Regions from separate parts of the Homo sapiens genome. Here region 2 is linked to region 1. A link means that fine-mapping ties the variant in region 1 to the expression of a gene that starts in the linked region. Tissue or cell type: spleen. Region 1 holds a variant in brackets; the other region holds the start of a gene. All regions are shown on one strand. Distances are between the middles of the regions.

Region 1 (11,427 bases):
GTGTAATGCACCTCCTCACGGGGTCATACTCTGAACTTCACCTCTAGGCGCCCGCCAGGACTTTAGTCTAGTTATAGGTCTAGAAAACAACAGGGATTTTGGGGGTGGGTCCTGAGAAGAAGCAACACTATCTTGCCTGGCAACTGCCTCAGAGGAGGCCATCACTGTTGACTCAGGCAGCACAGGGTTTATCTCCTCAGACAAAGGTGGAAATTTCAGGTCTTTCTCTACAGGAGATAAGACTCTCACTCAGGGCAATCCTAGCAGATTTGAGGCTCAGTATCTGCTTCTGGAGCCAGGAGTCAGAATCCCTGAGTTCATCATTTTCTTTCATCCCTTTGTCCAGTGCATTTAGGAGCAACCAACCAACTTCATTATGTTCCTTGATTCTCCACATATGGTCAAAGGTATTAAATATAGGGTCACTAAACTTTTTTCTCACAAGCAGTTAATCAGGAGTGTCAAATGCATTTATTTTGCATAATTCTCTAAACAGTTCACGCCAAAGGCTATCGGTGTTCTCCACGCCATTAGAATTAGAGTCCTTAGCATTTTTGGGTCTAATCACATTAAGCATCCAACTCCAGAAACCCCAAAACCAATGAAAGACCTCCATCCTTAATATTCTGTTTCTCTAGAACCACTCCTGGTACAAAAATCTGTATTACTCAGGGTTCTCTAGAGGGACAGAACTAATAGGATAGAGGTATATATAAAGGGGAGTGTATTATGGAGTTTATTAACTCCCATGATCGTGAGGTCCCACAATAGGCCATCTGCAAGCTGAGGAGCAAGGAAGCCAGTCCGAGTCCCAATGCTGAAGAACTTGGAGTCTGATGTTAGAGGGCAGGAAGCATCCAGCACAGGAAAAAAAAGTGTAGGCTGGGAGGCTAAGCCAGTCTAGCCTTTTTACATTCTTCTGCCTGCTTTTTATTCTGGTCCTACTGGCAGCTGATTAGATTGTGCCCATGCAGATTAAGGGTGGACCTGCCTTTCCCAGCCCACTGACTCAAATGTTAACCTCCTTTGGCAACACCCTCACAGACAAACCCAGGAACAATACTTGCATCCTTCAATCCAATCAAGTTGACACTCAGTATTAACCATCACACAATACAATCTCTTTAGACTGAGAATTCTCTCACTGCTTTTGGTATACGGTAAATATCCTACCATGAGAGATTCTAATACCCTCTACATGACTGAACATTCCTGAACAGCTGTACATGTGCCTGTGGCACACTGCAAACCAAGATTTTCCTGTGGGGCAGGTACACAGAAAAGAGACAATGGAAGGATGGTTAACCATAATTTTCTTTTCTCATCAGAGCTAGCCTGTCTGTCAAGGAACACTTGTCACCTTCTAAGCAGTATTAAGGATTTTGTTATTGTTCTGTTTTTAGAAATTCAGCTCCTTGTAATTTATTTACAAAGTGATTTCCAAAATTTTATCTCATATACCAAGTTTATGAAGGAAGCTTTGCTTTTTGACCACCTGGTATAGCTCATTCATCTGTGTATCTCTTCAGTGGCCTGCTTCAAACAATGTTACTACAAATATCATATATTAAAATCCCAATACAAATATCAAATATTAGGATGATCTCAAAAACTCTATCTCTTACCCTAAGATTACATCCCTAGAACCAGTATATTATGTGGCAAATCAGATTCTACTCACCACCCTATGTGGGAGTATTTTGAGAGTGTTTGAAGATGCCCAGGATAGATATGGAATTGTCACTATCCAAACTGAAAATTTACATCAAAGTGCTGAATTTGAATCAAGGACCAACTCCTTTTCACCTTCCCCTTTGCTCATCCATCCAAACAACTATTTCTATTTATCCTCCACTAAAAATCTAGCCCTTGCTTACAGTTGCCCACATTACATTTAAAATAACCTAATTAAATGACCTTTCAATGGAATGGACTCTGGCTCTCCCAGGCTAGGAAAATGAGTGCCAGCCTAGAAGCTTCTGGGCAGCATTTCAAGGAATTATCGCCTTATTTCTCAGGAAACACTTGCAAATGATGGGTATCAATCACCTAGTCCTTGCACTGTGTTCAAGCTCACCAGTTAGAGAGCTGCAAGACAGCTTCCATTACTTCCCCACATGGAGACTCCTCTCTCCCTCATCATCCACCCAGAAGGAACTGCTCAGAGCAGTTTTCCATTGCAGGCTTTTCTCTCACCTTCTGAGAGTCTGGCCCCTGCCACCACCCAGCTTCATAACAATCAGCTCCCACAGAAGCACCTGCAGTTTCCCGAAGCCCCACACTACCTTAGCTCAGGGACTTTATACTTGAAGACTCCATCTGGAGTCTCACCTCCCCACTTTTTTGAAACTTATGATTGTAGAGAGCATCTTACCACCTTCTTGACATGGCTTCTGCTCCTAGACTCTATTGTTTTATAGGTAAGGCATAACTCTTGCTTTTCACTGTATCCCCACTATTAAGAGTCCCCTCCGCAAGCAAATGCTCACAGAATGTTAGGCAAATAAAGCCGTCAGAGATGCTTTTATTTATTAACATTTAATTTCTGCTACTTTCTTGAATGAGCTAAGCAAAGCCAGGTCTATTTCTTTAATTTTCAAGAACAACAGTATAAACGGGATAAGGAAATGTAACTATTCACCATCCTTTATTTCGTTCCACTATTTAACTGCTGAGTTCTTACATAATTTAAAGAAAATTCCTAGTACAATACCATGTTATCCTGTTATAGATCACAAAATAAGAGACAAGCTTTTTCCATTTTTTTTTACAAAATATCAAACTGTTACTCTTAAACTAGATAAACAGCAATATATGTGTGACTAATATTTATAAAATAATATTCTGAAGCTAATTCAACCTACTATTAAAAGGAAAATCATTCAAAAAGTACACAAAAGGAAACGAGGTAAATCTATCTCTCCCATATGGAACAGAAATGCAAAGAACACTGTATTGTTCCCTCAAGCCCCACCCGGGCCCTCCACTACCTAGGACCCTGACTGCCCTCTTCAAACACAGACGTAAGAAACGGCCCTATACTTCACTCAGGACAGGAGAAGTTTCTGGAGATGACACGGAACCTTGCACTGGCCATGGCAGTAGCATCATTTTTGGTGTCAATTATGGCCTGGGCTCTGTCTTCCACATCTTTCAAAGCATCCTTGGAAGAGATTGGAAAGGAACTAGAGACGGTATTGTTTCACATGACCAAAATCTCACTACTTTCCTCTTGCTAGTTTCTGAATGGGCTCTAGGACCCCACAGGAATTCATAACGTGGAGGAGCACTACTGGGCACATGTCGCTACTCCAGGTAATGTCCCTGCACTCAAACTTTAGTGACAAGCTCCCTGGGCTCCCGATAGACGAAATGCTCCCTCTGAGCACACACCCCTATTGCATTCAGCACTTCCCAGATGACCTCCTCAGATGCACAGTTGCCCTTTATGAAGATCACACTCAGAATAAGAATCAGGAGGCGGTTCTGGGGCATGCCCTGCTCATCACTCAGACTCCCCTCACAGGTGAGGTCTAATGTGTTTACAAAGACATAGAAATGGTCGGGGTCCACTTCTGTCAGGGAAATGCCAAAAAGAATCTCTATGAACTCACGGGCTTTCCTGAAGATCATAGGAAAGTAGCCCGTGTATGTGTTGATGACATTCATCTGCATCTCTGCTCTTGTGAGAGGCTCTTTTGCTTGATATTTGAGGAGAAGAAACTGCACCAACTTGTCCACCTTTTCATCCAGTGTATAAGTGAACAAGGGCTCGCTCTCTGGCAAGCTGTGCCAGGTACTTGTATCTTCATCTTATTGGCTGCTAGGCTCTTCATTGAATGGGCTTCATAAAGTGGAGGAGGAGCAGGACAGGGAACCCTGGAGAGGACCCTGGGGAGGACTCTCAGGAGGATTCTGGGGAAGAGGCAGCATCCCAGCAGACAGCTACTCCTCCTCCTCCTCATGAGCACCAAGAATCAGAGTAGAGGATGAGGAGGAGGAGGAGGAGGAAGAGGAGAAAGAGGAGGAGAAGGAGGAAGAAGAGAAGGAAGAGGAGGGGAATAATAAGTAGAAAGAGGAAGAGGAAATGGAGGAGGTTTTCTCCTCTTCCTCCTCTGTGGAATCCTGTGCATCTGCCAAGTTCTCTATCACAGTTTGGTTCTGGAAGTCTTTCTCAAAGTTGCCGCTAGGAACATTTCAAAACACAGGCATAACGTCTTCCTTAGGAGCAGGAGGTAAATGTGTGAGCAGGGATGTGGATGATGGCATCCAACAGGCCTGAGGGAGAGAGGGACACTGCAAGTGGCCTCAGCTGAGAAACTCACCCATGGTGGTTCTGACAAAGGCCGGCTTACAGCTCTTCTTCTCTTAAGGTGGTGCTCTAGGGCCTCACGGGTCACCTGCCATCCTAGGGGGTTTGTCCCCTGGGAACCTGTAGGAGGATGTGAGAAAGCACCTCGGGGCACAGCTGGCAGGCAGAGCCTGAGGCACCAGGAATGGCAGTAGGTGGCTATGGCCAGGTGCTGCCAGGTCTGCTCTGTTTGTGGGGGTAGGGCCCTTGGTACACAGTCAGGGCGTGCACTCACCTTGACTCCTGATATTGCCTGGGCCTCCTCTGCTGTGCTGACTTTAGGAAGTGTGCCTCAGACCCAGGTCTTCAACTCCTGGTTCCTGGAGCACCTGCAAGAGGAAGTGAGGGAGCCCCTCAGGCTAAAGACTGCAAGCAGAGTCTTGGGCCTCCCAAGGCTGACAGCTGGGGCTGACCAGACTCCCAGAGCCCCACAGTTCTGGACTGCATGGTCCCATCAGAATTTAATTAGCATCCTCACCTTTTCTCAGACAGGGCCATGTCCCTACCACTCTTCTAGCCAAAACTCAGGGCAAACTCCACATCCCTGAGAGCAGTGGGAGGTAGTGAGGTGGCAGCCACCTCCCAGCACTCTACCACGGGGGCAGTTGGGCTGGCCTCACATCTGTTCTGATGCACATGTGACTCCTCAGTCCTCACTCTTATCCCCAGCAGGGCCTGGGAATCTTCCCTCTGCCAACTGGAGGCAGCTCCCTGTGCTGATTTGCCACGGGACCCTCAGACCAAGGCCTTCCCTTTCCCTGCACCTCTCACCCAGCAATGAGAGGGCTGCCGCTCAGCCTGAGCTGACTGGGGAGCTCTACGAGGGCTGATATGGAGGAGCATGCTGGGAATCTCTGGGAGTCTGTCCTCTGAGGTGGCGTTTCCCCTTGTCCTTCTCAAAGTCTTCCTATTTATTCCCTAGAGAGCTGGCACCTCCTCCCTTCTTCTGTCATGAAGACGTGTCCCTCAGCCCTCGGTTACCCTCTTCCTGTCTGCGACCTACAATCTCACAGCAGGTAGAGGGCAGGCAAGAGCTTCTTCTTTCTGTGGTGGGAGGTCCCTCAGTTCTCCCTTAGGGCCCTTACCTTGAGGATCGGCCAGTTCTAAGAGTCTTCTGTCTGCTGATCTCAATTAAGCCTTCTCACAAAATGCCTCAAATACTTCAGACTCCCAGTGGGGCTAGGTCTCCTCTCTATGGAGGAACCACCCCTCACCTCTCTACCTCTTTCCCACACTTTCCTGACCACCTCCCGGCCCTTCTCCACCCCTTCCTGCCCATCTCCTGGGCCCCCTCCACCCCTTCCTGCCTACCTCCCCGACCCTTTCCACCCCTTCCTGCCCACCTCTCGGTATCCCTCCACCTTTTCCTCCTCACTTCAAAGCCCTCGTCCATATTTCCCTGCCCACCTCCCCGCTTTCTCCCCCCACAACCTTTTTCCAGGGCTGACGGCAGGAAGGG[A/G]AAGGGTGTAGCCTGTGCCTCTCCTCCATGTTGGAAGGTCACTGTCCTTCCACAGAGTTCTCTTCTCGTTGAGTGGCCAGTCCTGGGGTTCCTCCCTCTGCTTAACTGAAACTGCCCTCCTCAGAGAAAACTTCCCCTCCGGCTGACTCCCAAAATGCAAGTCAGAAAGTTGTAAACCTGGGGACCCTGATAGGGTCCTCCAGAGCTGGCAGCAGGCACAGGGACAGGGGAGGGGCACTACCAGTCATGGGTGTTCCCTTCCTGCCTTCCCGAGAGGCTGTGCCTGGACTCCTGGAAACCGCCTGGCCTTCCTGCCTCTGTGCAACTGAGTCTTTCACCTCCGAATAAGCCCCTCCCATCCCTGAGACCTGCAAGGTGCAAGAGAGGGAGAATCACATCCACCCACAGTGGGGTGGGGCCTCCCAGGCCCAAGGCAGGACTCTGGTGTCCTTTTTCTAAAATGGGGTGGGCAGGACTCTCTGTTTTCCTGCAGTTATTATTCCTGACATGGCCTGGGAGCCCTTCCCCTGCTGTCCAGAGACTATGTTCTTCAGATCAAGGTCCCCATTTCCATGAGACGCCCCCCAAGACGAAGTGAAAAGCGCTAGCATCTCTGACTGAGGGCCCTGCCCAAGGCCTCCCAGGGGTGAAAACAGGGCCTGGATTTGTGTGTCCTTCTGTTTCTTGGGAGGGGTGTCTCACCAGTCCTTCCTCTGTGTCATCCTGGGGATGCCTGGAAGGGCCTGAGTCCCTTCACCTCTCATGATCTGAAGTGAGACTCACCTAGGCAGAGCCTTCTCCTCTTTCTACCCTCTAAAATGTCAGGGGGACACCACAGTGGGCCACCATGCCCCAGGGCCTCCCAGGGCTGACAGCAGCAGTGGAGCTGGATTCTGTGGATCCTTCTCTTTGTGGGCAGGGAGTCTTGCAGTTATCTCTCAGAGGCTTCATGTGACTACTGGCTGGTCCTGGGTCTCCCTGTTCTTCTCATGATGACAGTATAACATACGGCAAAAAATAATGTAATTTTACCCTGAATAAAGCTAAAAAGCACGATGATGCCATGGTAATCAAGTTAACATCATCAGTGACAAATTTTGTTGGTACTATGTGCTGTCGGTATGATAAGAACGGCACTTCACCTCTCTGTTCATCCTTCCAGGAAACATTACCTACATCAAATCATGACAGAAAAAAATCACATAAATCCCAGTCAAAGTCAATTTTACAAAATACCTAACCATACGAAACTGTCAAAACTGTCAATGTTTTCAAAATCGAGAAATGTCTCAATCAACCGGTACAGCCAAAGGGCATCGAAGGAACATGATAACTAAATGTAATGGAGTATCCTTAGGGGATCCTGGCATAGAAAATAGAATTTCGTGAAAAGTAAGAAAATGTGACTGAAGTATGTTCAATAATAAATAAAGAATGTTTGTTAAAAACAATGTACAAATACTGGCTCATTAGTTTTAGGAAACCTTACCAAGGTAAGGTGTTAATAACAGGAGGCATTGAGTGTGGAACATATGAGAACTTTCTTACTATTGTTATAATTTTCTTGTAAATCTAAAATTATTTAAACATAAAGTTTATCAAATATGAAAAATGTTACCAAACTAGATAAAAGGATATGCATGAAAAACCTACAACAGATACATCTTTTAAGGAAATGTTGGAAGCCTCTAGTTTGAACTTGAGACCTAACCTAGAGTTTCTGCTACAAGTACTTCTATTACTTTTTATACTAGAGGTAGTAGCCAGTGTAGTAATCCAAAGAGCAGTAAATGAAGGAATGAGGATTGGCCAGTTGGAAACAAAGCGTTTGTGATTCATGCATGATTAGACTGTGCATGAAAAGAATCCAAAACAACTAAAGATAATTTATTCAATATATAATAGTATATCAGTTTGCTAGTATAAGGTCAATATTCAAAAGAATATCAACTTCGTTTTTTGTCAGGGAAAGAGTATGAAAATGAAAGTAAAGACTATATAATTTTAACCTATAGTACCAAAATATCAAGTATCTTAGGAAAATAATTTAACCAAAAACATTTTAACCAAATAAGACTGGGAGGCAGCTGATGGCTGGTTAAAATATTTTTTGGTTAAAAAAGCTTAACCAAAAAATTTTTACAGACAAAAATATTAAAATGCTGTTGAGGCATATTAACAAAGACCTACCTGAACATAAAATAAAATAAATTCATGGGCATGAAGATTCAATATTTTAAATATGTTGATTCTTCCCAAAAAGGAATCTACAGATCGACTGCAATCCTAAATCAAAACTGCCAAAGGGCTTTGGACATGAAGGCATGTGTGAATCACCTGATTCTAAAATATAAAGACATGCAAATGGACAAGCATAGTCAATATACACTTGAAAAAGAGTCATTAGTCTACCAGACAGTAAGAATTACAAAGCTACTATAATGAAGAGTTTGAGATTTGGGTGCAGAGATTGACAGATAGACCAAAGGAACTGAATGGAGAGTTCTGAAAAACAAAACCAACAAAACATGTATAAACATGTGCTTAACTGATTTTTAAAACTTGCAGCTTTAGAACAGGAGACAGTCTTCTTGAAATAAGTGTCAGTGGAACAACAGAATATCCATACAAAAACCCTAATGTAAGTGGAACCCTTTTTCATATTAAACAGAAAAAACAATTACAGGGAAATTCAAAACCTACCTTAAAATATGTTTATTATAAAAAACCTCAGAAATACACAGACATTCTTAGAATAATAAGTCTTTGTATAAATTATCTTTAAGCAAGTTCGCAGTATGAGTAAATTAGAGCATCTGTAAGGCTGGATTTGAAAGCACTGAAAGAGGCTGGGGTCTTTGGTCACTTCAGTACCAGGGAGAAGTAAGATAAGAGTCAAAGAGGAGCACAGGAAATAGCAGCTACTTCTGCCCCCTTGTCTCAGCCATAAAAGGCCTGACTGCTTTCATGAACCTTTGCTTCCTGAGAGCAGGACTTGAAATCTCAATAGTGGCTGGGGGAAGGCTACCTGGGACAACTTTGCATTAATTCCCTCTTACTTGGCCAGTCCTCCTGCTGACCTCTGGAACTCTGGGGGTCCAAGAAATATAATGTGAGCAGTTCTACTCCAGAAAGTCATGAATGGGGGATGTTGTGTTGATGACAGAAACCTGACCAGGTCCACAAATACTTTACTGACTTAAGAGGCAGTGCCAGTTTGCCCAAATGTGATGGGAATAGAGGTTTATTTTCCTCTCCACATAGATAGGAGATTCACATACTTCCTTTCAGCTGTTCTTACTCCTGACAGGACCCTCAGCAGGATTCAGGAACCCTGAGATTCCAAAAAAGGCTGACTTGTGGCTTTGCCAGAGACTTCCCTGAGGGTTGGGGCCCTCTTCATTGACTATGGCCAGGATCAACTCAGCCGTTCATGAGCTGACTTCCTTCTTCAGCTTTGGCTCAGTGTCCCGGGGCAGTGGGACTCTGCTCATAGCCAGGATTGGTGGACCAAACCTCAGCGCTCAAGGTGGAAACCCACAGACAAGGAAGCTCTTCTCCTAGACTGGGAGGCAGCTGGTGGGTAAATTCCAGCTCTGGTCCCATGCCCTCGGGAATTATCTTCATGGAGTTGTTCTTCTGAGGTCCCAAGAAGGGAGCATTTCTTATGGATGATAAAAAGAAAATGGAAACCTATTCTTTTACCTCCTGGTATTGGAAATAAGTCTCCTGTCCAGAAGAGAGAGGGACTAACGTTCTTGGGATTCAATCAATGGGGAGTGTCAGGGACCTTTTAAAGGAGTGAACACAACCATTTTCCAAACATGCCCCAAATGACTCACCTTCAGTTCCTTATTCTCACGTAGATTCAGCCTTCAAAGAACATGCTGCCTCTGTCACCGAAGATTTACCATAGTTGCCATGAATATAGATGTTTTGCGCACAGGTTTGGGGGAGGGGAGGGCATTCCCTGAGTTCAAGGAAGAAGGAGCATTTGTGTGTGGTTCAGAGAAGTTATAAAATAAACATGAGGGCTGACAACTTATTAAAAAATAATAGCTCAATGTGACTTTTTTGCTATAGGTGGCACATGTTTTGATATACTTGATGCCTCCCTTTCTCTCAATTTTTATCAAATCCAACAGCAGCATTTGTTACCCCAACCTCTAAAACCCATGTGAAGTCCCTCCACTTCAATTGATCTCCATTACTACCTCTGTGGTTCATCTCTCACCTAGACTAAGACAAACCCTCTTTTGCTGGTGCCTCTCCTTTCACATTCAGTCCTGTAAAATCCATTCTTTTCTCAGCATCCTTTTGAAAACCCAATGCATGGCTGATTTTTAAAACTTTGTATAGATCAGCGTTCACTATAATGAACATTTTTATTTATCATAGCAAATATAGAGTCTTACATCTACCACTAAAATGTCATAGAGATCCCTTCTTTTAGCCTAAAATTTCTCTTGCTTCACCTTGATAGTCAACCACCACCCCCTACCCAAATCACAGCAAAAACAGTGTGTTTAGTGTGTTTTCTTTATCTACTTTTTTTTTTTTTACCATTTCCAGATTTAAAATGCATAGAATAATACAATTCTGTTTCTAGAGTGAGTGTATTTTTTTTTCAAATTAAAATCAGCAATGACTGAGGGTACCTGTTCTTCAGCCTCCTGTTGAGTGTTTGAAATTTTCAGGCATTTTGATTTTAGCCACTCTAAAAGATGTGTAGTGGTATCCTGTTTTACTTTGTAATTCCCTAGTGACATAAGATGCTAATCATCTTTTTACATGATTATTTGCAATGTGTATATATTCTTTGGTGTAGTGTGTATCTACTCAGATCTTTTGTCCATTTTTATTGGATTGCTTTCTTGTTATTGAGTTGAGGGTTCTGAATATATTTTTGATACACATCTTCAGTCAGATTTTTTTTGCAAAACTTTTATCCTCGTTTCTCGTTTTTCCTTTTTGTTCTCTTAACAGAATTTTTTCATTTTTATGAAGCCAAACTTATCAATTTTTTCTTTCACAGATGTTCCTTTTTGGGTTGTATCTAAGAAGTTTTCTCGAACCATAGTTACTTAGGTTTTCCCCTGTGGTATCTTCTATGTGTTTCATAGGTTTTTTAAAATTTTATTTTCACATTTAGGTCTGTGATTGAATTTATGTGAGCTTTTGTGAAGAGTTTAAGGTCTGTGCCTAACTTCATTTTCTCCATGTGGATGTCCACTTGTTCTGGTATAATTAGCTGAAAAGATTATTCTTAATTTAAATGCCTCTGATTCCTTGTCAAAAGTTGGTTGACTATATTTCTGTAGGTCTATTTCTGGGATGTCTATTGCATTTCTTTGACTTTTTTGTCTATTATTTCTTTAATATCACACTGTCTTAATTATCGTAACTTTATAGTAAGACCTGAAGTTGGGAAGTGTTAGTCTTCCCACTGTCTTCTTCTTTAATATTGTGTTGGCTAATCTTAGTCTTTTGCCTTTCCACATAAAACATATTTTAGTCCTTAAAATAAGTTTGTTGGTATCCACAAAACAACATGCTAGGATTTTGACTGGGATTTTAGGCAATCTATAGATCAAGTTAGAATTGACATCTTGACAAT
Region 2 (11,427 bases), 40 kb after region 1:
AATAATCTGAAGAAATTATCTGGAATACTGCCTAATAAAAACAGAGATTAAATTATAAAAAATAAATTAAAAGATGTGGTGTATTGAGTGAGAAGGTCTCACATATATGTAACTAAAATCTCAATAGACTCTAGAAAATAGGAGTCAAGGAAATAGTCAAAGAGATAATTGATGTTTTTCCACAATTTTTGAAGACATTAAACTTCAAATACAGAAAGACCAACAAATTTTAAGTGAAATAAATGAAAACAAATGCACACCTAAACACATAACAGTGAAACAGCAGAATACCAAAGGCACACAGAAGATATTAAAAGAATTCAGAGGGAAAAGATAATTCACATATTGCAACTACACTGAGAGCTGACTTTTCAGCAAGGGAATGAGAAGGGATTAGGCCCACCAAGCTAAACTCATACGCCAAATTTAAATATTTTTCAAATGTGAGGGTGAAACAATGACATATTCAGACAATAGAAAGTTTGAAAATTTGCCACCAAGCAATGTAAGTGCCCACTGGAAGAATATTAATACATAGATTTTAGTGTATTCATAAAATGGAATGCTGTACATCAGTAAAACTAAGTGAACTATAATTGCACATATCCACAGGATTGAATTTCAAAAACATGATATCGGACGGAAAAGTGTCAGAATAACTTACACAGTATGACATGATACGTATAAGCTTCAAAATCAGGGACAACTGCAAAATATATTGTTGAGGGATATTAACATCATACACTCCAAAGAGAAGAGAAAGGGAATAAGTACTACAAAGTTCAACGTGGTGGCAATCCCTGGATAAGGGATGCGCTTGAGGAGAGCACATGGAAAGCTTTTTAATTTAATGGTAATATTATATTTCTTAAGACTTCTGAAGGTGTCTGTCTGCTTGTTTACATTGCACTTATATATACTCTTTTGAATATTTAAAATGAAAACAAACTAACATCAAAAACCCTATGGGGGCACGCTTGGTATGTGGGCAAGGCTTACTAATCAGAGGGATTTGCCTTTGATTATCTGGGTAGGGATTATGCTGGCAATCATCTAAATGGTATCAAAGTTTTTGCTCTTGAGTCATTCAATTTCTTAAGAGAATGTCTGATATTTCTTCTGGAGTTGTATACCTGCTTGAGGAGCATTCTGTTCATGGGGTGATATATAGTTTGAAGGAAGTTTATTTTTCCCTCACACGTATTCTTTAGAGAAGATGAGCTTTCTCTCCAGCTCAAGGTTGCTATAATTGGACAATGTATGCACAATAAACTTATTCAAGTCAGAAACAATACAAAAATATGTAGCTAGCCACTAATAAGGGAGTATATGGGTTGTCTAAATTAGCTGATAGCAAGTCATTCTTGTGCGCAGAGACAAAAAGATGTACTCCGGCCTAGTAGCTTCTATAACACAGGTTGATGGCCTTACTCCTGTAGAGTAAGGGACAGCCTGCAGAGGCTGTGAATTCATACATTAAACTCAGATCAACCCTCCAATCATATTTTTCTAACTACATAGCCTTGAAGCTGTTGTATGTATAAAGCTGGAATTTGTGTGTTTTCTGTTACTCTAATCATCTTGTGAACTAGAGACTGGCCATCATTCATTTACATGATAAAGCGTTTTATGAATAAATTGCCACATTTCTCTATGCCTCTGCAAATGCAGGTGCAATAAATTTCAAGAACGTAGATTTATTCTCAAAATTATAAATGACAGAGAAGAAGCAATAATTTAATGAACTCCACAATGTGTGTGTCAAACAAACCTGGCTCTTATAAGTGAAGTTAGAATGACTTTTGTTGCCACCTAGAGCAATAGCAATCAAAGGGAAAACATAAGACTTATAGTCTAATAAATGTAGAACTAACAATGTAGGAGCTAACAATGTTATATAGCTAACAATGTAGGAGAGATGAAGTGTTTTAGGGATGTTTATGAAGTCTAAGAGTGTAAATTGAGAGGTTTCATTCCCGGGTCTGCCAGTGATTCACTGTGTGGGCTAGAAGAAGTCACTTTCATGGGAGTAATTTAAGTCTTTATTTATATTTCCAGGGTGCGATACCTTGAGAGGAGAATCTACTTGTGGAATACATTAAACACAAAGAAAATCACAAAGGCCATGAATAAAAGGGGATGTATTTCTTTCTTGAACAAAGATGCCACCACTACCACTAACCTCTCCTTCTTGAACAAACGTGACAACACCTACCACTAACCTCTTCTGACATTTCATCACAAGTTCATTCCAAGTTATACAGGATGCTTAAAGTGTATTCAGCTTTGAATTGTTTTTAAAATATACGATAGTTAAAAGGCTACAGAGAATCTGGAAAAGTAAGAACAGACATCTGAAATTCCATAAAATCACTCAGCTGCTACTACAGTCTGTTATAATTTTCATTGTTTCATTGAAACAATGCAACAAAATCATTGAAACAAAAAATGAGCAAGTTTCATTCCTTGCTAGTTTTCATTGTTGCATACATCTTATAAAGTTGTACTTATATTTTATGCATAATGTTGTGTCGTGCCTTGTTAATTTATAACAAATAATTTAAGTTTATCTTAATATTATAATTTGTAATATAATTTTAATGGCTGCACAGCATTCAGTCAAGTAATTGTATGAACCAAGTACCAAAACACTACAGTTCATACTATTAAGCAATTTAAATATTCATACACTTCCAACTTTCTCAATACCTAATTATCACACTAGAAATATTTAGGCATTTTCGTGGCCCAAAAATAATACTTCTTTCAATACACATCATTTTAAACACACAGTTCGGTTAAGATCTTTCATACTGAAGCCCAAATAGAAGGATGTTTTATGAGTGTTCTGCGAGTCCTTCATGTGCCAGCAAATATGCTAATAGCAGTCCCTTTTCTCAAACAGATCACATCATATTGGAAAGTTAGCAAAATAGACTGAAAAGGAAGGGTACTATTTCAAAAGCCGTGAAGGGGCATCTAGAAGCAAACGGTCATCATTGACAAATGTTCCAGAGAGGTCAGGTAAGAGGCAAATTGATCAGTCCCAGTCAGTAAACAGATATTACTTGAATGCTTAATATGTGTCTACTAAGTCTCATTTAGGATCTGGTGGACAAGGCTGAGTCCCTTCCCTCAATAATATTTTATGCTAGTGGGGGCAGAAAGAAAATAAACACATAAACAAATATCTACAGTTGATTTCTTATTTTTTGACTTTTAGGTTCAAGGATATATGTGCAGGTTTGTTATATAGGTAAACTCTGTGTCATGGGGGTTTGGTGTACAGATTATTTCATCACCCAGGTAATATGTATAATAACTATAGATAGCTTTTTGATCAAGTACTAGGGACTATCAAGAATGTAAAATACGGCAATATGTTTGCGAATGTCATGAGATTTAACTCAGGTGGTCAGGAAATTCCTCTTTAAGAAGATGCAATTTGTTTGGAGACCTGAAATATCCAAAAGGAGTCTTTGGATTTGATAATTAAAATGGCTTTGATGGTCTTGCAAAGTACAGCTTTATTTGAGTGGTAGAGACAGGAGTCAGAGAGCACCAGGTTGAAGAAAGAGTGACTGGTAAGTAAGAAGAGACAGACAAGAAGCTTCACTCTTGTGAGGCTTAAGTGGAAAGAAAAGAAGAAAGAAGAAAAGAAGTGAGAAGGAAAAGCAGAGTGAAGTTATTATCACATTATTTTTTACAATTCACCTTTAAAGTGGTTCCTGATGCTTCCTCTTACTTAAATTTTTATTTAATATTAAACATATTTATAAACTATAGTTAATTAGCCAGTAGAAAGGCAGATGTTGAAAATACAGAAAAAAAAAGAAGCAGTGGAGCAAGGTCCATTCTCAATCCCCTTGAATAGAACAATTTATTCATTAACTATTTACTGAGCATTTTTGTGTTTGTTTTGTTTTTGTTCTTGTGGGGTTTTTTTTTTTGATGTGAAAAACACACAAAAGCATAACTACCCACTGACCAATTTTGCAGGAGGACTCATGCTAATGCTAATACATCAGGCTGAATTTTAGACAGAATGGTTGAAGAAAATAAATGCTGAACAGTCCACTTTAATATGGCAATTTAGTGAGGAGAGGCACTCTCTCCCATTTAGAGACACAAGAAAATATTGCTTCTGTGAAAATCTTCTTAACATGGAGATGTTAGTAATGATGCCAAATTTATGAAATGTTCTTAAAGAGGTCTGAACAAAGTTTGCTACATAGAACAAATTCAAAATAATATGTAATTATATGTTTTTCCAATATCATATACTTTTGAAAAATGCAAAATCTTGTGCTAAATGTAACTTTCACTTTCTTAAATCACTTTTATGTCAATATTCTTATGAAAATATTTCTTAAAATTAAATGATATTTTATGACCTGATATTCTCTACTTGTCATTTATTTAGATTGCAAGCTAAAAACTAATTAGAAAGACTATACTTTTGCTGTTAACTTTCTCAGAGGTAAAATATCACTTTTCTTTAGTGGTTTGTGATGCTATGAATGAATACTTTCCAGGTTGGGTATTTCCTGGCTGTTAAATATCAGTTAAGTTTTGGCTGACTTCACCTCCATCTATCAACCTCCCTGCCAATCATTTAACAGCTATAGAATAGGTCTCCTCACACAAATCCTTCAGGAAGAATTTCCATTGTGCACATTCTGACCAGAAGAAAAAATGCAGCAAATTTTTGGAAAGTGAATCATTTTTAGAGTTCTGAGCAAATTATGTTAAACTCAGGGTTTCTCACTGTCAGCACCATCACATTTTAGGCAGTATAATTCTTTCTTGTGTGAGGTCGTCCTTTGTCCAATAAGACGCTTAGAAGCATCTCTGTCTCTGCTTATTAAATACCAGTAGCATTCCCTGCTGCCACCAATTATGACAACCAACAATATTTCTAGATATTGGCAAGTATCCCCTAAGTGGCAAAATCTCTTCCAGTTAAGAACCACTGAGTTAAGAACAGTAAGTAATGATCCAGGGAAAATGGATATAAAGATATTAAAAAGCTAGTAAAGCATTTGACATATTAGAAATGCATATAAACAATTCATATTTATAAAATAAAATCTACTGAAGATATAATGAATAAACACTTGTTTTGGTGAGCAAGCTTGGGATTGCAGCTGTGGGCCTGGAAGTGGTAGGAGCTGCAAAGCCTGCCCAGGATTAGCTGTAGCCAGAGCCGGCAGCCAAGACAATAGCAAAGATCAATTTGACCTCAAGATATAATCAAATATGACAGCAGAGTGAATGAAGCTTTTATTTTGCTCCGTTCTTCTCCATAATCCTTCTTATGCCCATAATCATTATAATTACATAAAATATTTAAAAACCTTTAAAAATTATTTCTTGGAAACCATGAATATGGCAGACTAGAGGCATTTTGTACTCACTTTCTCCATTAAAAATAACCAAACGGTGAGTCGATAATCACACTTTGAATATATAATTCAAAGGAAATCACTGGAATCCATTAGAAAAGTGATAGGCAATACTTAAAGCAGAGATGGAGAGGGAATCAAGGCAGCCTGCTCATCCAGGATCAGCTGTGAGCTGAGAGACTCCAAATACAGAGAAAGGATAGGTGAGAGAGCCTCAGTAGTTTACATTCTCACTATAGACTCCTATAATCCCAGCCACAGGAGATCCCTTCAACCATCATGGGCCCCGAAACTAACATAGAAAGCTGCCAGGAGATTGTATGATGGCACTGCTTCAGGGAGAAAGCTCCCGCTGGGTCCCTCACACTTCTTGAGACTTAAGCAGCTACAACAAAGTACCATTTTAGAGCCCTGCCCTCAACAGACTGAGCACTGTCCTGGAGCCCAGTAGCCCAGGGCTGAGGTGCAAGAGAAGCACGAACTGCTGCCCCAGGGACATAGGCATCAGTGACTACAGACTACAGCATCTGGTGCAGAGGTGGGACGAAGGCGTGGGCTGCTGCTTTTAGGACTGAGGCACAAATGAGGCACCACTGCAGAGCCTCACCCCCGATGAACTACATACTGTCCTGGAGCCCAGTGGCATTGAGGCCTAGGTGCAAACTAAATGTCTGATGTTTCCCTGGAGATTCAGACATGAGCGACCACAGGCTACTGCAACCAAGGGAAAGACATGAACATCAAGGCTGGGCAAGATAGCATCTTAGAGCCTCACCCCCAACAGACTGCACACTGTCTTGGAGCCAAGCAACACTGAGGCTGAGATGCAAAAGAAGAGCTGGCTGTTAACCTGGGGCTTAGACATGAGCATTCATGGGCTACCACACCTGGGGCTGAGGTGGGAGCACCACTGGGGATAAGGCATATGTGGCACATGTGTTTTTCACCCACTGGCCTAGACTGCCATCACTGAAGGTGGCATCCAACACCCAGTGGCAGGGCAGCAGCATGGCCACTGCCACCCTGTCTTTACCAAAGAGATAGAGACCATAAAAAAGGAACGAACAGAAATTCTGGAGCCAAAGAATGCAGTGAATAAACTAAAAAATACACATGAAAGCTTCAACAATATACTCAATCATAACTGACTTATGTTAAGATCACATTTTGCTTGAAGACAGTTTTTTTTGAAATAACGCTGTCAGACAAAAATAAAGAAAAAAAGAAAATAATAAAATAAACCTTTGGAATCTATCTAACAACATAAAGTGACCAAATATAAAAATCACTGATAGCCCAGAAGGCAAAGAGAGAAAACATGTTTTCAAAGACCTATTTATTGAAATAATAGATGACACTTCCTAAGTCGAGCAAGACACTTAGACATTGAGATACAGGAGGCCCATCAATTCCTAAACAGATACAATGTGAAAAGGTCTCTTCCATAGCACATTACAGACAAAATATTTAAAGTTTTTTTTTTCTTTTTTTCCAAGATGGCAGATTGGAAGCATTATAAGCATACTTATCCCACTTGGTAAGACAAAATGGCATGTAGAGATTCATGCTGTAAAATTTATTCGAAGAAACAATGTAAGAACTTAACAGAAAAACTGAAAGAAACCACAGACCCTTTGAATGAAGTGGCAGGCAACAGACTACATCATAAAACAGATGGAAAACCATTAGTCCCCAGAGCATGAGAGAGGGATAGATTGCTGTCATGACATATACTCCCACAGGCGAGCCAGGCAATACAAGTCATGAGGGAGGACTTCAAACCTACTCAGCTCTAGAGGTGATTCAGTGAAAAGTAAGGAATATATAAGAAGGAGCAGCATCGGGACATGCTTTGTGTGCAGACCCAGATTCCAGCAAGAATGGAGGGAAGCCATTCCTGATCCCACCTCACGGGACGTTGCAGAAGTCTAACTCAGGCTGCAGTCACAGTTTGAGAGAAGAGCCCAACTGGGATTTGTGATATAATCCTTAGTAAGGACAAAGCTGATTGGCCAGAACCGAGGGGCAAGTGAGAAGTGTGCTACGGCAACAAGGCACATGAGCTGCATGGCCCTGCTTCACAGGTGGACTGGAAAGGATGCAGCCTGAAAGATATGGTTTCTGTGTCCATAGGGAAAGCTTATGGCCTGGGATGGTTTTAAATTCTGAGCACGGGCCACTTGAAACCCAGTTAGCTGCTGCTGCTAGCAGAACACTGTGGGTATGAAAACTGACTTGCCAAGTGTGTGGGAGCTGAGTGGGGCTTATTACAACCTGCTGCCTCCCACTTTTCAGGCAGATTTTTTGTGCAGCAGAGGCAGCTGTGTTCCTGCCTGGAACATTACCCCACCAGCCAGGGAACTGCCCTCGGATCCCCACTGGGGCCACTGCTTGCACCTGCACATGGGGAGCCAGAGTGCAGACTTGCCTGACTCAGTTTAATAACTTCTGAGGCACAATGAAATCATCCCAATGCCTCCATGTTCAATTTCAGGCACTAACAAGTCCCTGAGGTATTAAATGCATTGCTTTTCTGCGGTCTTGCCACCTTCAGGAGCTTACTAAGAAAATGAAGAAGAGCCACGATCACTCCTCTCAATTAGCCTCTTCCCTTGGCTGAGAAATGTGTTTCCGGTCTTGAGAACACAGAAGTTTTGCATTTGCTCATGAGAGATCTGAAACCTTCTGACACTGCCCTGCATCTTTTCCATTCCCTCTAAATAGAGAAGACTCTTCTCCTGTCTCCTACCTTCTGCTCTGACATCCATTCACTAACACCTAGGCACAAAAAGCCTAGTTCACCCAATGGCAGAAACGGCTAAGGTGGGCCTCTTCCAAGCTATGAACAACATTTCAAAGCTTAAGTCCCTACCCTCTTCCAACACAATGTCCTTTTCATTCCTCTAGCTCAGTAGTGCTCAGATTGGGGGTGATTTTGCACCCCATCCCAAGAAGACATTTTGCAGTCTGGAAATATTTTTGGTTGTCACAACTGGGATGGCTCTTGGTGCTATCGGCATCTATTGAATAGAAACTAGGAATGCTGCTAATCATTCTAAATTCAGCAAGATGACACCCCCTCAAAAAAGCCCACAGAACTATCTGTCTCAAAATGTCAATAGTAATAAAGGTGAAAAACCCTGTAGCTCATTCCTTAATAGGCCACCCAAAGAGATTTTGGATGTTTTCATTTATAAAATTATGCATATATTTTGGCAAATCAACAGCTGTTTCTCACCACTGATGGTTAGACAAGGGAAAGAATAAGGAGACTGATATTATAATGAGCTCATTCTATGCCAGGTACAGTGCTCAATACTTCAGATTTATATTATCACATTTAATCTGTTAAAAATGTCCCAACATGTAGTAACAAGAGTTATTTTTATTTTACAAAGTTAAAAGAAAACTGAATTTTGAACAAATTGAAAGATCGATTCAGATTACAGCATCTGTAAATGGCAGAGCAGAAACTTACTATTAATGATCGCATGGCTTCAGAGCTGATGCCAGCCATCTCAATCTCACAAAGATCTCCGCATTCACTCATCTTTTACCCTCAAGCATTGTCTTACGTAGACATTCCTGACTTATTCCAATGGAAAGTCAAAAACAGAAATTTGATATTCAACAAGGAATATTATGTAGGATTTTGCTGTTGTTTCCTGAAAATTTTTCAATATACTGAATAAGCTATGGGAAAGCAAGCGGAAATAGTGTTGGCTTATAAAACCTCTCACCCTGTGACTAACCAAAATGAACAGAAAGGATTCATCAATGCTGAAACTTGAAACAAAACTGAGTCTTAATCAATATAATTCTTGAGGTATGATTCAGATCCAGTATAATTTGGCCCAGATTGAAAGAAGACTCAAAAATCAATATATAACCCCTATCACTACCTTGGTCCAGATATTCCAATTTGAAGAAGCAAGGAAATTAGACTTGAGCAGATCTGGAGGAAGTGTAGGCTGCACTGTGTGGAGCTTGTTTCTCCACTGCAAATAAGCATTCCTGAGAAACTAAATGCTGGACAAGATGCAAAGCCATACAACCGATGTGATTGCCTCCCTAACTACCTGCCAACCTGTAGTTTATCTTCCTTCTAAACAGACAGAATATCAGAGAGAAGTAGAAGCAATCTCTTGAGAATCATAGCCACAGCCTTCTGCACAGAAAAATACATAGGGTCAAACAAAACAAAAACCTCAACAACCCTGGACTTTTTATGAAAATGAATTTCTCACTTTGAGAGGGAGTAAACTGAAACACAAAAAGGCCATTCTTCACCAACAGATGAGAGCATGCCCCCAACACGGTGCTGCTGATGCCAGTGCATAGGAGCCAAAAAATCAAACTGAGCAACTAAGAAACAAACCAACAACTAAGAAAAAAACTTCCTGACTGCAACTACTCACAGCCCCAGATATCTCCTCACTGTCCCCCAAGCCCCCTGTTCCCATAAAGGAGCTAAATGACTGAACAAAGAATAAAAACAATAAATGTGCAAATTGTTCGGTGCATGTTTCAAGGCATTGGTCCAAAAAAATATGCAGACCAGTTCTGGAAGTTGGGCTAAAAAAGACAGATTCTGAAGCTGCAACTGGAAGATTTCTTTAGTAGGTCTGGAGGGGTGATTGATGCTCTGTACTTTTTCACATCCATGTTTGAGAACCACTGTTCAAAGTGGAGAGAGAGGGTTAAGTCAAAGATTTTCCTAGAACAGAGATATCAAGGAAAACGTATTCATCTATTTTTGGCAGTGGGGACAATCCATGGCCCCAATTCAAAATAAACGAGAAGAAAAACAAATAATAACAGCATAGCACCAATATGTAAAATGCTCTATAACATAGAAGGGAAGAGAACAGGAATACAGCAAGCAAAGACAACTAGCTAAGTAGTATTTGTTGCCAGGTTCTGCAGTAGTGGCTGAAGAACAAAAGTGACCACAGATATTTAACAAGTGGAGAAACTAAAAAATAACTCTAAAATCAATAGGAAACAATAAGGAACATAATCAACCCTATAAAAAATTTAGTAATTTAAAGTATAGGCTTGGGAAACATTAAAACTACACAGGAAATGAAGAGATTTTATAAATATATAGATGTATTCATAAAAACATATTTTCATAAATATGTGAAAACAGATCCAACGTTAGGATCACTGTTTTGGAATTAGGCTTACTCACTGTGGGACTGATTTTGGGAAGAAGTAATCATTTCTTCACTTTAACTTATTGTAATTTTGGCCTTAAGAACTAGCCAAAACTTATTTTGAATGTAGCTTTAACAAGAAATATTTATGTGACCCTGTCTCAATGTTTGACTCTTCTCGACTTCAGCTTTGTGCCCTGCAAATTGAAGATAAAATACGTTCCTGTCTCGCAAAGTGGTTGTGGGAGTTTTATAAATCCCTGAGAAAATACAAAGAAGGTTTCAAGCATCAGATGTGGCTATTAATATTTCATAGAGAAGAATTTAAAGAAACTCTTGTGGCTCTAAAAGTGGTATCTGAAAATTTTAAATTGAATGTGCATTTTAAAAATATAAAACAAAAACTTAGCAGAATAAAAATTAGTTGAGATCTTTGGTATTCTTCAGATAAGAAATGAAACAAAACAGGCTAAATAAAATCAGAGAAAAAAACTTAATGTGATGACACACGAGAACAAATATGTAAGTCAAATCAGCTCCCCACTTAATGAGAAGACTCATAGACAAATTAATGATAATAACCAATAGCATTATATTTATACAAACAAACACAAAACTTCCAAAGCAATGTGACTCAGAAAAGTTGAAAGTAAAAATTTTTGACTGAAATTTACCAGATGATATAAACAAAAATGGGAACAGACACCTATTCCTTTAAAAGGCAAAATTTGGAAATGGCACATCTCAACTCACAACTCATTAGAACTCAGTCACATGGCCAAGTGGAGTTGCAAAAGAAGCTGGGAAATGTAGTCTGGTCATTCACGCACCCAGCTAAACATCAAGTATTCTAGTACTGAAGG

Which allele goes with the higher level. Positions count from the first base shown, and alleles are read on the strand shown. Sizes are in standard deviations (SD) of each study's normalised expression.
For the expression in spleen of the gene that starts at base 6,415 in region 2, G is the high allele of the variant in region 1 and A is the other (large effect, 1.0 SD a copy in GTEx).

Evidence for each region.
Region 2: it holds the start of MAGEC3, and the variant in region 1 is fine-mapped to the expression of MAGEC3 in spleen (GTEx, PIP above 0.99).

What each region holds. Positions count from the first base shown.
Region 1 is chrX:141,873,763-141,885,189 of GRCh38, reverse strand. It overlaps MAGEC3 (MAGE family member C3), which reads right to left. Exons shown (of 8, transcript NM_138702.1): 3 at 5,759-6,015; 4 at 3,394-3,787. Among named protein-coding and RNA genes, the nearest start is that of MAGEC1, 24 kb to the left of the region's middle. The variant A/G (reference allele first, on the strand shown) is at 5,811.
Region 2 is chrX:141,833,304-141,844,730 of GRCh38, reverse strand. It overlaps MAGEC3 (MAGE family member C3), which reads right to left and starts at 6,415. Exons shown (of 8, transcript NM_138702.1): 1 at 6,293-6,415. The coding sequence starts at 6,415.